Linked DNA regions of Homo sapiens. The protein of the gene in region 2 purifies or fractionates together with the protein of the main gene of each other region. This does not show direct contact. Each region holds a gene or a part of one and is shown on either strand. Other genes may lie near its edges. The genes, in order: ZSWIM8, NUAK1 and PPP1R12B.

Region 1 (3,495 bases), on a different chromosome or scaffold from region 2:
TTGACACTGACCTCTGATGATTCCCTGGGAATGAGACAGCTCTGAGGGAGACATTGGAATCTCATCTAACACCTTCCATGTGGTAAAGGCCTTTCCCCCTTAACACTCTGTGCCCCTCTCTTCCAGGACAACCTGATGTTGGAGAAGGCCTGCATGGCAGTGGAAGAGGCAGCTAAGGGTGGGGGCGTGTACCCTGAAGTGTTGTTTGAGGTTGCTCACCAGTGGTTCTGGCTGTATGAGCAAACTGCAGGTGGCTCATCCACAGCCCGTGAAGGGGCTACAAGCTGTAGTGCCAGTGGGATCAGGGCAGGTGGGGAAGCTGGGCGGGGTATGCCTGAGGGTAGAGGGGGCCCAGGGACTGAGCCGGTTACAGTGGCAGCGGCAGCAGTGACAGCAGCAGCCACAGTGGTGCCCGTCATATCGGTGGGGTCTAGTTTATACCCGGGTCCAGGACTGGGGCATGGCCACTCCCCTGGCCTGCACCCCTACACTGCTCTACAGCCCCACCTGCCCTGTAGCCCTCAGTATCTCACTCACCCAGCTCACCCTGCCCACCCCATGCCTCACATGCCCCGGCCTGCCGTCTTCCCTGTGCCCAGCTCTGCATACCCACAGGTGAGACCAGTGTTCTGCTGGGGGGTAAGGCATGGGAAAATACTGGGAATTCATAGGGGGTTGGAGTGGGTACTCTGGGAGTATAATTGGTCAGTCGGAGAGTCCTGGTGAGGTGGTGGGAGTCTGGGGGACCCAGCCCAACTAAAATAAGAAATGACGGCCGGGCATGGTGGCTCATGCCTGTAATCCCAGCACTTTGAGAGGCCGATGTGGGTGGATCACTTGAGGTCAGGAGTTCGAGACCAGCCTGGCCAACATGGGGAAACCCCGTCTCTACTAAAAATTAGCTGAGTGCACGCCTGTAATCCCAGCTTCTTGGGAGGCTGAGATGGGAATCACTTGAACCTGGGAGGCAGAGGTTGCAGTGAGCCGATATCGTGCCACTGCACTCCAGCCTGGAGGACAGAGCGAGACTCTATCTCAAAAAAAACATGTCAGGATAGCAGCTTGTGGGGGTGAAGCACGACAGCAACATCCTAATCAAGTTTGGCATCTTCCCCTTTCTTCTCCCTGCCCCTAGGGTGTGCATCCTGCATTCCTAGGGGCTCAGTACCCTTATTCAGTGACTCCTCCCTCACTTGCTGCCACTGCTGTGTCTTTCCCCGTTCCTTCCATGGCACCCATCACAGTACATCCCTACCACACAGAGCCAGGGCTTCCACTGCCCACCAGTGTGGCCTGTGAGTTGTGGGGCCAGGGAACAGGTGAATGGAGGGGAGGCACACTGGGCAGGGGAGGTGGGGAGGGAATGTTCTTTGTCTCTCTTTGGGCTCTGAGTTCCTCACATGGCTCTCACCCCACTTAGTGAGCAGTGTCCATCCAGCATCCACGTTTCCAGCCATCCAAGGTGCCTCACTGCCTGCCCTGACCACACAGCCCAGCCCTCTGGTGAGCGGAGGTTTTCCACCGCCCGAGGAGGAGACACACAGTCAGCCAGTCAATCCCCACAGCCTGCACCACCTGCATGCTGCCTACCGTGTCGGTGAGAGGACATCCCTTTCTGTGCTCCTACCTGCAGTTGTGCCAGTGGCTCTTCAGAGGACCCTTCCTCTAGCTCTTCATTTGTTTACTGTGGGGTCAGGTGACAGGTTGGGGTAAAGGGTGAAGAGGATACACCGTACCATGTGCCCACCCTTATCTATCTCCCAGGAATGCTGGCACTGGAGATGCTGGGTCGCCGGGCACACAACGATCACCCCAACAACTTCTCCCGCTCCCCCCCCTACACTGATGATGTCAAATGGTTGCTGGGGCTGGCAGCAAAGCTGGGTAACACCTCCCCTCCCTAGGACCATTGCCCCCCCCCCACCTGCTCTCCCCACCTTCCTTATCCCAGACCTCCTTCCTAGCTCTTGCTCAGAGTTGAGGCCTTGGTCGGGTATGTGTGCGTGCGCGGGGGGCGGAGGGTTACCTCAGCTCCTGGGGTGGAGGGAGGCTCTCTGCCAGGCCAGAGCTGAGATCTGTAAGTTGGGTCCCTAGGGCAGAGGTGGCCACCCCCGTCTCATGCCCCTCCCCCTGCCCCCCAGGAGTGAACTACGTGCACCAGTTCTGTGTGGGGGCAGCCAAGGGGGTGCTGAGCCCGTTTGTGCTGCAGGAGATCGTCATGGAGACGCTGCAGCGGCTGAGTCCCGCTCATGCCCACAACCACCTGCGTGCCCCGGCCTTCCACCAACTGGTGCAGCGCTGCCAGCAGGCATACATGCAGGTGACAACCTAGAATTATGGAGCAGGGTGGAGCACTTCCTGGGTGGTCTTGGACCAGAGGGAGGCAGGGCCTGTTTCTGTGCTTTGTACTAAGGCTCATCCTGCACACATCCTCCTCCAGTACATCCACCACCGCTTGATTCACCTGACTCCTGCGGACTACGACGACTTTGTGAATGCGATCCGGAGTGCCCGCAGCGCCTTCTGCCTGACGCCCATGGGCATGATGCAGTTCAACGACATCCTACAGAACCTCAAGCGCAGCAAACAGACCAAGGAGCTGTGGCAGCGGGTCTCACTCGAGATGGCCACCTTCTCCCCCTGAGTCTTTCACCCTTAGGGTCCTATACAGGGACCCAGGCCTGTGGCTATGGGGGCCCCTCACACAGGGGGAGTGAAACTTGGCTGGACAGATCATCCTCACTCAGTTCCCTGGTAGCACAGACTGACAGCTGCTCTTGGGCTATAGCTTGGGGCCAAGATGTCTCACACCCTAGAAGCCTAGGGCTGGGGGAGACAGCCCTGTCTGGGAGGGGGCGTTGGGTGGCCTCTGGTATTTATTTGGCATTTATAAATATATAAACTCCTTTTTTACTCTAGTCGACCTGGGCCTTTCCCTTCTTTCCAAATTCCATGTGCAGATGAACCTTCAACTGGGGAGGAAACTTCTGACACTTGCTTTAGTCTAGGTTTTTCCCACTCCAGGGAGGCAGACAAAACAGAAAAATAAGGATGTTTATTAAGGACATTTCTAGCCCACAGCTAGGGCTCATACTCGGCTCTATGAGCCACTGTCCGACCTCATCCCCATTCAATGTGAATGACATTAGGGAGGCCGGGCCACAGGTAGATCCCACTGCCTGGCTAAAGGGGCCATAGCAAGGGGTCCCTCCCATGCAAGGGGTCTCTCCCATAGCCAGGTATAGAATAGATACACTGCTGCGGATGAAGAGGGAAATCTCATTGGACTAATACATTCCCCTACACCCTGCCTGGACCCTCTCATTCCTCCCCACCTCCCAAGATGATGGGTCAAAGGTACCTAGCACTATTATGTGGGGTACCAAAGGAAGCCCCTTTATTTGTCCCAGAACTGTGGGAAAAGGATACCCTTCCCTTCTCAGCCATCTCAGGCCTGGGGGCTACTGAGGTAGAGGGGGAGGGGCCAGGCCACTC
Region 2 (3,651 bases):
ACAACAACTCTACAAGGTAGGTACTGTTATTTACATAATTTCACAGATAGGGAAACTGAGGCACAGAAAAACTAAGTAATTTGCCCAAGGTAATCCAGTGGTAAAGAGTAGAGTTGGGATTTGAACCCATGTCTGTCTGATTTCACGAGCCCAAATTCAAGTCGCTTTGCTTGATTTGCTAGCAGGATCCTAAATTATTTTAGAGCTGGAACTCTTTGCCTGGCTATTTCTTTGTCACTCTCCACCCTGTCTCCTACTTCTCCCTCTCCACCTTCCCACCCCTGAAACCAGCCATAGACCTGGGAAGCTGACTAAAATGGGGATGGTGCTTGCTGTTGGGAAATAGCAAGTGCTGGAGTTTACTTGCACGGAGAGTATTATTGCTGGCTGCTGCTGGAGCTGGAGAAAGTTCTCCTGGCCCACAGGGTTCAAGTGCCTCCCAGGGAGCCCTCTGAATGTCCTTTTGACCACGTCTACAAAATAAGCAAATACGGTTTCAAAATAAACGGAGCTCGCTGCATGGGTTTCATTATGAAACGGCCTTAGTACTCCCGGCACCAGCAGGAGCCCTCCAATTGGCCGCTGGTGACGTTAGTGGCTTATCCCTGGTCCCTGGGCAAAGCATGGGAATGATTTTTTTGTTGTTGCTGCTATCAGTGGAGGAGCGTGTGATGAGACTTGTTTCCTTGCTTGGAAGGATGGAGTTGCTTTGGTGTTGGGATTCTCTGTACAGATCATGGCAGCAACCATTAGTCACCATCATCCTTTGAGAGGCCCCTGGAAGCCATGACCCAGTGACCTCTTGCTCTTGCAGAGTGTTTGACCGTAGTCACATGTAGTCTATAGAATAAGCAGGAAATAGTTGGTCAAAGTAGTTCTCCATGGGAATAGGAAGTGGAATCGCAGGGTCTATTTCTGGCAAAGTGGTTGGATTATTCTAGAAGGAGCACTGGTTGTAGAGTTAGGAAATTCCGGGCTGTATGGCTTACTAGCTTCTTGACACTGGGAAAACCACTTAACCCTGTTTCCTCAGCTGTAAAACGGGGTAACAGTACTACTCACAGGCCTGCTTAGAGCAGTGAATGAGACACTCTGTGTTTAGTTTTGTAAACTGCTAAGCACTCGTGTCCAAATGAGTCAAAGTTAAAAGCAGTGGCTTTGGAGTTAGATATTTCAACCCTGCCCCTTAGTAATGGCAGGATTTGGGGTAAGTTTCTTGATGATTTAGGCTTTAGTTTCCTCATCTGTCAAGAGTTGCCAGTTCCTGTCTCTGCAGATTATTGTTTATTTGTTCATTTTTGTTTCAAGGAGTATTTTCTGAACTGTTACTGTGTGCAATGCCCTGTGCCCAGTCCTGGAGAGTCAATAATAAACGTGAAGATTTTAGACAATACTACAATCAAAGCAATTCATGCTTAACTGTTACTATACTGGGAGCCTTCTTAAGTGGCTGGCCACTGGAGAGGGAATTGAACCGGAAGTCAGCTGCTCTGAAGGTGCCTACCTAGGTCCTGGGGAGTGGTGGTCAGGCCATGGCTGAAAAATTGGTCTTGGTTTGAGGGCCACCACATTTTTCTAAGGGTTTGTGTCATCAACCTTATTGACTTCCTCTCCAGATCCTTCCTGCCACCTGCCCCCAGAGCTCTCAAAACTAAATGTCATCTTTACAAGGCCTGGAATGTAAGCCTCTTGCCTAGGGGTTGGGTTCTATGGTGCAGTGTGACCTCTTGGTCCCATGATGTATTCCCAGAAGTGATAAGACACATAGCTTTCTATGAAATCATGTAATTCCCTAATGGAGGAAAAGAATGATTAGAATTCTGAAAGCAATTGTGCAGGGAAACAGTGAGGCAGGAGCCCAGGAGAATGGCTTCATTTGTGTAAGCAAAAGGGCAATGATGTTGGGCCTGACAGTTCCCCTGCACCAAGTTCTTCAACCTAGGGTGCCTGTGCATGATGGAGGGAAAGAGCACACACACAAAGCAGTATTATCAATTAAGGCTTAGGCATATACCTTTCCTTAAGAATTTCTAATCCTGGCATTTCCCAAGGTAAAGCACGGGTGTGCATGCACACATACGTCCCAAAGAGAAACCAGATCTTCCCATTATCAACACTTTTAAATTCCTTTCCTCTTTGTTCAAGGAATCCTACTTAGGTCTGAGAATCCTACATCTTTAAAGAACTTTGGGAGTCATTTTTCCAACCCCTTGTTTTAATGATTAGACCCAGAAAGTCTAGAGGATAATGCCCACGATCACACAGTGAATCAGTCTGGACTAAATTATTGTGTCTTTGCTTCCCCAGAGTGTAGACTAGTGCTTGGCACACAGTAGGTACTTCAAAATGGTTTGATTTTGGAATAAAGGAATGATGAGCCAGGATTAGAACTCATGTGTTTGACTTCCAGGCAAATTATCTTTTCATCATCTCCCATCCACTTCCAAGGTTTTAAAAAAATGTGATTCAGCTGGTCTTGATTTGTCTTCTGGTGGTATATTCTCAACTCTTCCTGACTCAGCATTTTGCTGAAACATATTTAGAAAGGACCCATGCTGGCAAAGGCAGGCAGATACATGGCCACAAGCCGGCCTCTGTGCTCAAGAGAGCCCCTGCCATCCGTGTCTGGACCTGGGGGACCACAGACACACGAGCCACGAACCAGCGGGACATGAGCAGCAAGATCCTCTCTTGGAGCCCCCTCTGGTGCTTCTCTAAATGTGGATCCATTTTCCACGTTTCAAGGGTGGAGGACTTTGGCCTAGGAAGCCTATATAAATGCTACTGGTTTAAACTTGTCACATGTCGCTGCAGTGGTGGGGAGAGCCATGTAGCTCATTCCTCTCCCCTTCCCTGCCTGATGTTGATTTGCAGAGCACACATCTGGCATTGGAAATTATTTATCTGGCACTGCGAGAGGGTGTGGTTTCTAAAAATATTCACACAGTCGGTCAGCAGAAAGAATGAGAGCAATGTGCTGCTTTGGGCTGCATTCCGTACTCTGGAAGCATGTCTACTAAAATAGACACCAAGCACAGCACTAATTTGCAATTAATAAAAAACGGGCCAAATTCACAGCCCACTCTCTGGGAGAATGGAATGCTGACAATTCCCATAGAAGGCTCCTGTAAAAATGTCTTACAATGAGAAGAGGTCCAGGCACCAGGGTCAGCCGACCTCCTCCAAGAGGGCTGGGAATCTGGTGAGCTCCCAGGGCTCAGAGTAGAGGGGCATAGGGGAAATGGCCTGCTGCCCCTTAAGACAATGGAAGCGCGGCTGCTGTGGATAAGAAAAGAAGCTTTGAATGGCCAGGGCCAAGATGAGATAGAAACCTCTGAAGCTTAATAAGACCAAGTGGGGCAGCTGAGAGTCAGCCTCTGGGCTTTGATGATATGAATGGGAGAGCTCTGTGTTCATGCATGAATTAATCAATTCATGTGTTGTGTGTATATATCCACGCATACCTGCATTCACTCATCCATTCCTGCATTTATTCACTGAGGAATTGAACGTCTTTTCTGGGCAATATTTATTTGATCAGAAATATTCATTAAGGTCCTACTGTGTACTTGACCCTGTGCTGGGGATTTAATAGTGAACTAGATGGCCAAATTTCTGTCTTGGAACTCAGGATCTCGCAGTTGTTAAACT
Region 3 (3,651 bases), on a different chromosome or scaffold from region 2:
CTGTTAAATGAAGATTGTAATATCTATTATATTTACCTTGAAGGATTGTTGGGAAACTAAAGTCATATAACATGTAAAAAGACTTGGAAGTTTATAGCTTTGTACAAATATTATAATGTAAAAATAATGTCCCCTTTGTCTTTATGTTCTGTTGAAAACAATTTTAGGTGCATTCCCTTAATGGATCTGTATCACATAATATTTAACCTGATGATTTAATCCTGGTAAGACCATTAATATGTGTACAAATGCCATTGATCTTCTAAATTTGATAATTACCCAACTTGATGGCTAAATTGTTATTTGTATTTATGTTTATGATGTGCTTTAATCTAAGGAAAATATCCTGTCAAACTTAAGTGGAGCTTTAGTAATCCTGGCTGTCTGGTATCTGGTTTCTGTAGGAGTTGATCTAGAGCAGTCAAGAAAAGAAGAAGAGCAGCAGATGTTGCAGGATGCCCGCCAGTGGCTCAACAGTGGGAAAATAGAGGATGTGAGGCAGGCTCGCTCAGGGGCTACAGCCCTTCATGTGGCTGCTGCCAAGGGCTACTCTGAAGTCCTCAGGTATTGTCCATTTACATCAATCAGGAGTGGTTCACTGGGAGAAGATGGAATAGGTTTTGGAAGCAGAGGCTGAATTAGATTTTCCGCTATGACGTGTTTCCTTTTTTGTTGGTTTCCTCTCTGATTGTGCAGTCTTTTCTCACATTTTGCTGGTATTCATCCATGGATTGTCTCCCTCCCTCCTACCATTCCTCTAGCTTCTCACTAACATGTATGATGTGAAACAGAGTTGAGGTACATGGTCCTAGGAGGGGACTTCTTCCAGTTCTCTGATTTGTCATTAATATCCCTGCAACGACCTCTTCTTGTGACCTGTAATACTTGTGATCATTTGTTCCGTTTTGACTTATATAATTTCTTTTGTGTCATTAGATTAATTATATAGATCTTGAGTATGCGATGTCCAGCTGGCACAGGATAGCCAAACTTATATGAGGGATTTGGACTCTACTACTCTGTCTGTTCCATTTTTCCTTACATCCATACATGCTTCTTGTAGCTCTTGGTACTTAATGTTCACAGGCTTTCCCAAATACATGGGTTGCCAAAGGCATTATATGTGCAGTTGTTAACTGGACTCTTCCAGTATTTCATATTTCACCTAATGCAGGGTTTTTAATAGGTATAGCAGTGTTTTGGTGCTCCATTTCTGCCTGATAGCGCTATCCATAAGGGCCCCAATGTGGTTTGGGTCTTCAGGAGTCAAATCTTTTCTCTTCCATGCATACAAGTTAAATTATAGCTTTATAGTTAGCAAAAAATTGGAGATATGTGGGTATATGGTAAATATAGTGTCCTAGAAAGACCAACCAGAAGGCTAGTTGGGAAAATACCCTGAAGAGAATTGAGTCTTCATTTTATTTTATTTTTTTAAACTTTATCTTTATTGTTGACACTATTACAGATAGAGAGAATGACCACAGCCTATTAGAGTCTTCATTTTATATGTTACTTCTTCCCTGCACTGGAAAATGGAAAATGTACCTTTAACAGAGTTATGTGATTTGGCTAATTGAATTATGCTTTGGTTAATCTTAGGTACATACGTTTCCGTATACTCCCCTTGTATGGTGTAAAATGGATATGCCTAGGAAATATCTTATGACTTTTTTGAGAGGATTGGTAAAGGTCATCTATGATTGGTACGCAAAGTAGTTAACTATGAAACCCAAACTGTGCCTTAGAGGGCAGAAGTAATCATAAGACCCCTGTGGTTCAGGGCCAAAATCTGAAATATCAATTAGGTAATAGTGTATTTGCCAGAAAATTGTAATATACAGAAGATATATGTCTTGTTTTGGGTTTTCTTTTTAGACTTTTAATTCAGGCTGGCTATGAACTCAATGTTCAGGATTATGATGGCTGGACTCCCCTCCATGCTGCTGCACACTGGGGAGTGAAGGAGGCTTGCTCCATCCTGGCAGAAGCACTTTGTGACATGGATATTCGAAATAAACTGGTTAGTGAGCCTGAACCTCTAAAAGAACAACGAGATTGGTGGCTGGGTCTCTAGAATAAAAGGCTTAACATCTCTTTTCAATGGCAGTCTGACTGTTGTGAAATATACATCACTGGTAGCTATAATGTTACCCTCCACCACCCTGCCTCTGGCCCTATTAACACAGAGTTATGTTTGTTATTTAAAATAAAACTCCGTGGACCTTCTGATTGTATTTATGTTCAAGCCTCTAAAACAGGAAAAAAATATATTTGTTCTTGGCAAAAAATGAGCTTTGAGGAGCCTAATGTTATTGTCTGTGGTGAGGTATGAAAGATTTTATTGTTGCTGTATTCATGTGAGTCATTAAAATGTTATAATGACAAAGATCCTTGAGTTTGGCTGAAAATAGTGTTATTCGGTCTCACTTCAAACAACTTAGAAGCTCTGGAACTCCTATCCCTATGTCTACTGATTTTATTTTATTATTATTATTTTTGAGACAGAGTCTCGCTCTGTTGCCCAGGCTGGAGTGCAGTGGTGCGACCTCAGCTCACTGCAGGCTCCACCTCTCAAGTTCACGCCATTCTCCTGCCTCAGCCTCCTGAGTAGCTGGGACTACAGGCACACGCCGCCACGCCTGGCTAATTTTTTGTATTTTTTTTATTAGTAGAGATGGGGTTTCACTGTGTTAGCCAGGATTGTCTCGATCTCCTGACCTCGTGATCCGCCTGCCTCAGCCTCCCAAAACGCTGGGATTACAGGCATGAGCCACCATGCCCAGCTGATTTTATTTTAATTAAACTAATTTTTTTTTTTTTTTAATGGTAGAGATGGGGGGTCTCACTGGTTTCCCAGCTGGTCTCAAGCTCCTGGGCTCAAGTGATTCCCAGCCTTGCCACTTGTAATCCCAAACTCTGTGTTTAAAGGATTTGGTGTTTCTCGTTATGTGTCCTCTGTGATAGATGAAGGTATTATCATAATGTATGGTAGACTAGTTAGGGAAGCAGTTATTATTGGAATTAAAGGCAAAAAGTGAATATTGAATAATACTGAGTAATCCCAAATTGTTGGGATTACAGGTGTGAGCCACTGTGCCCAGCCCATATATGTACTGATTTTCTAGTAGTGCAGAGATATGGCCTTTTAATTAGTAGATATTCTTATCTGTGTCACATCTCTCCTGAACCCAGGTTTCATTCTCAGACTGTGGGTCAGGGTTCTTAATTATGCTGATGCTTCCTAAAAGAATTAACTTTCTTGTCAGTCCTCCCCTCACTTAAAGGAAGATGATTCCTGTGATTTAATCTTTATTAAACATGTGCCCTGAACCTCCCTCTGAAGTTTTGAAGAGCCCTTTATGGAATTTATCATAGCAATTAAGACCATTTTAGAACAGATACAAGTAGGGATTTCACTTGATTATTTGCCAGGTGGCAGTAAGGATTAGAAATGGTGTGATTTCTGCAGTACTGTTGTACAAACTCTATATTTAAAGGATTTGGTGTTTCTTGTTATGTGTCCTGTGTGATAGATGAAGGTGTTATCATAATGTATGGTAGATTAGTTTGAAAAGCAGCTATTATTGGAGTCAAAGGCAAAAAGTGACTTTTGAATAGTTCCCTACTAATAAAGTCACGTAATTGCTG

What was found.
Region 1: the proteins of NUAK1 (region 2) and ZSWIM8 purify together in Homo sapiens (affinity purification with mass spectrometry; one large-scale study listed by BioGRID and IntAct). This does not show direct contact.
Region 3: the proteins of NUAK1 (region 2) and PPP1R12B purify together in Homo sapiens (affinity purification with mass spectrometry; 2 studies listed by BioGRID and IntAct, with this or other methods). This does not show direct contact.

Annotation. Positions count from the first base shown.
Region 1 is NC_000010.11:73,798,876-73,802,370, forward strand, and holds the end of ZSWIM8 (zinc finger SWIM domain-containing protein 8), read left to right. Parts: exon of another isoform or gene 1-126; coding exon 127-615; exon of another isoform or gene 616-1,135; coding exon 1,136-1,295; coding exon of another isoform or gene 1,296-1,319; exon of another isoform or gene 1,320-1,420; coding exon 1,421-1,597; exon of another isoform or gene 1,598-1,764; coding exon 1,765-1,884; exon of another isoform or gene 1,885-2,141; coding exon 2,142-2,320; exon of another isoform or gene 2,321-2,440; coding exon 2,441-2,644; coding exon of another isoform or gene 2,645-2,901; 3' UTR 2,902-2,918; downstream 2,919-3,495. UniProt on the Homo sapiens protein: Substrate recognition component of a SCF-like E3 ubiquitin-protein ligase complex that promotes target-directed microRNA degradation (TDMD), a process that mediates degradation of microRNAs (miRNAs).
Region 2 is NC_000012.12:106,079,843-106,083,493, reverse strand, and holds part of NUAK1 (NUAK family SNF1-like kinase 1), read left to right. Parts: intron 1-3,651. UniProt on the Homo sapiens protein: Serine/threonine-protein kinase involved in various processes such as cell adhesion, regulation of cell ploidy and senescence, cell proliferation and tumor progression. Phosphorylates ATM, CASP6, LATS1, PPP1R12A and p53/TP53.
Region 3 is NC_000001.11:202,425,162-202,428,812, forward strand, and holds part of PPP1R12B (protein phosphatase 1 regulatory subunit 12B), read left to right. Parts: intron 1-404; coding exon 405-564; intron 565-1,878; coding exon 1,879-2,023; intron 2,024-3,651. UniProt on the Homo sapiens protein: Regulates myosin phosphatase activity. Augments Ca(2+) sensitivity of the contractile apparatus.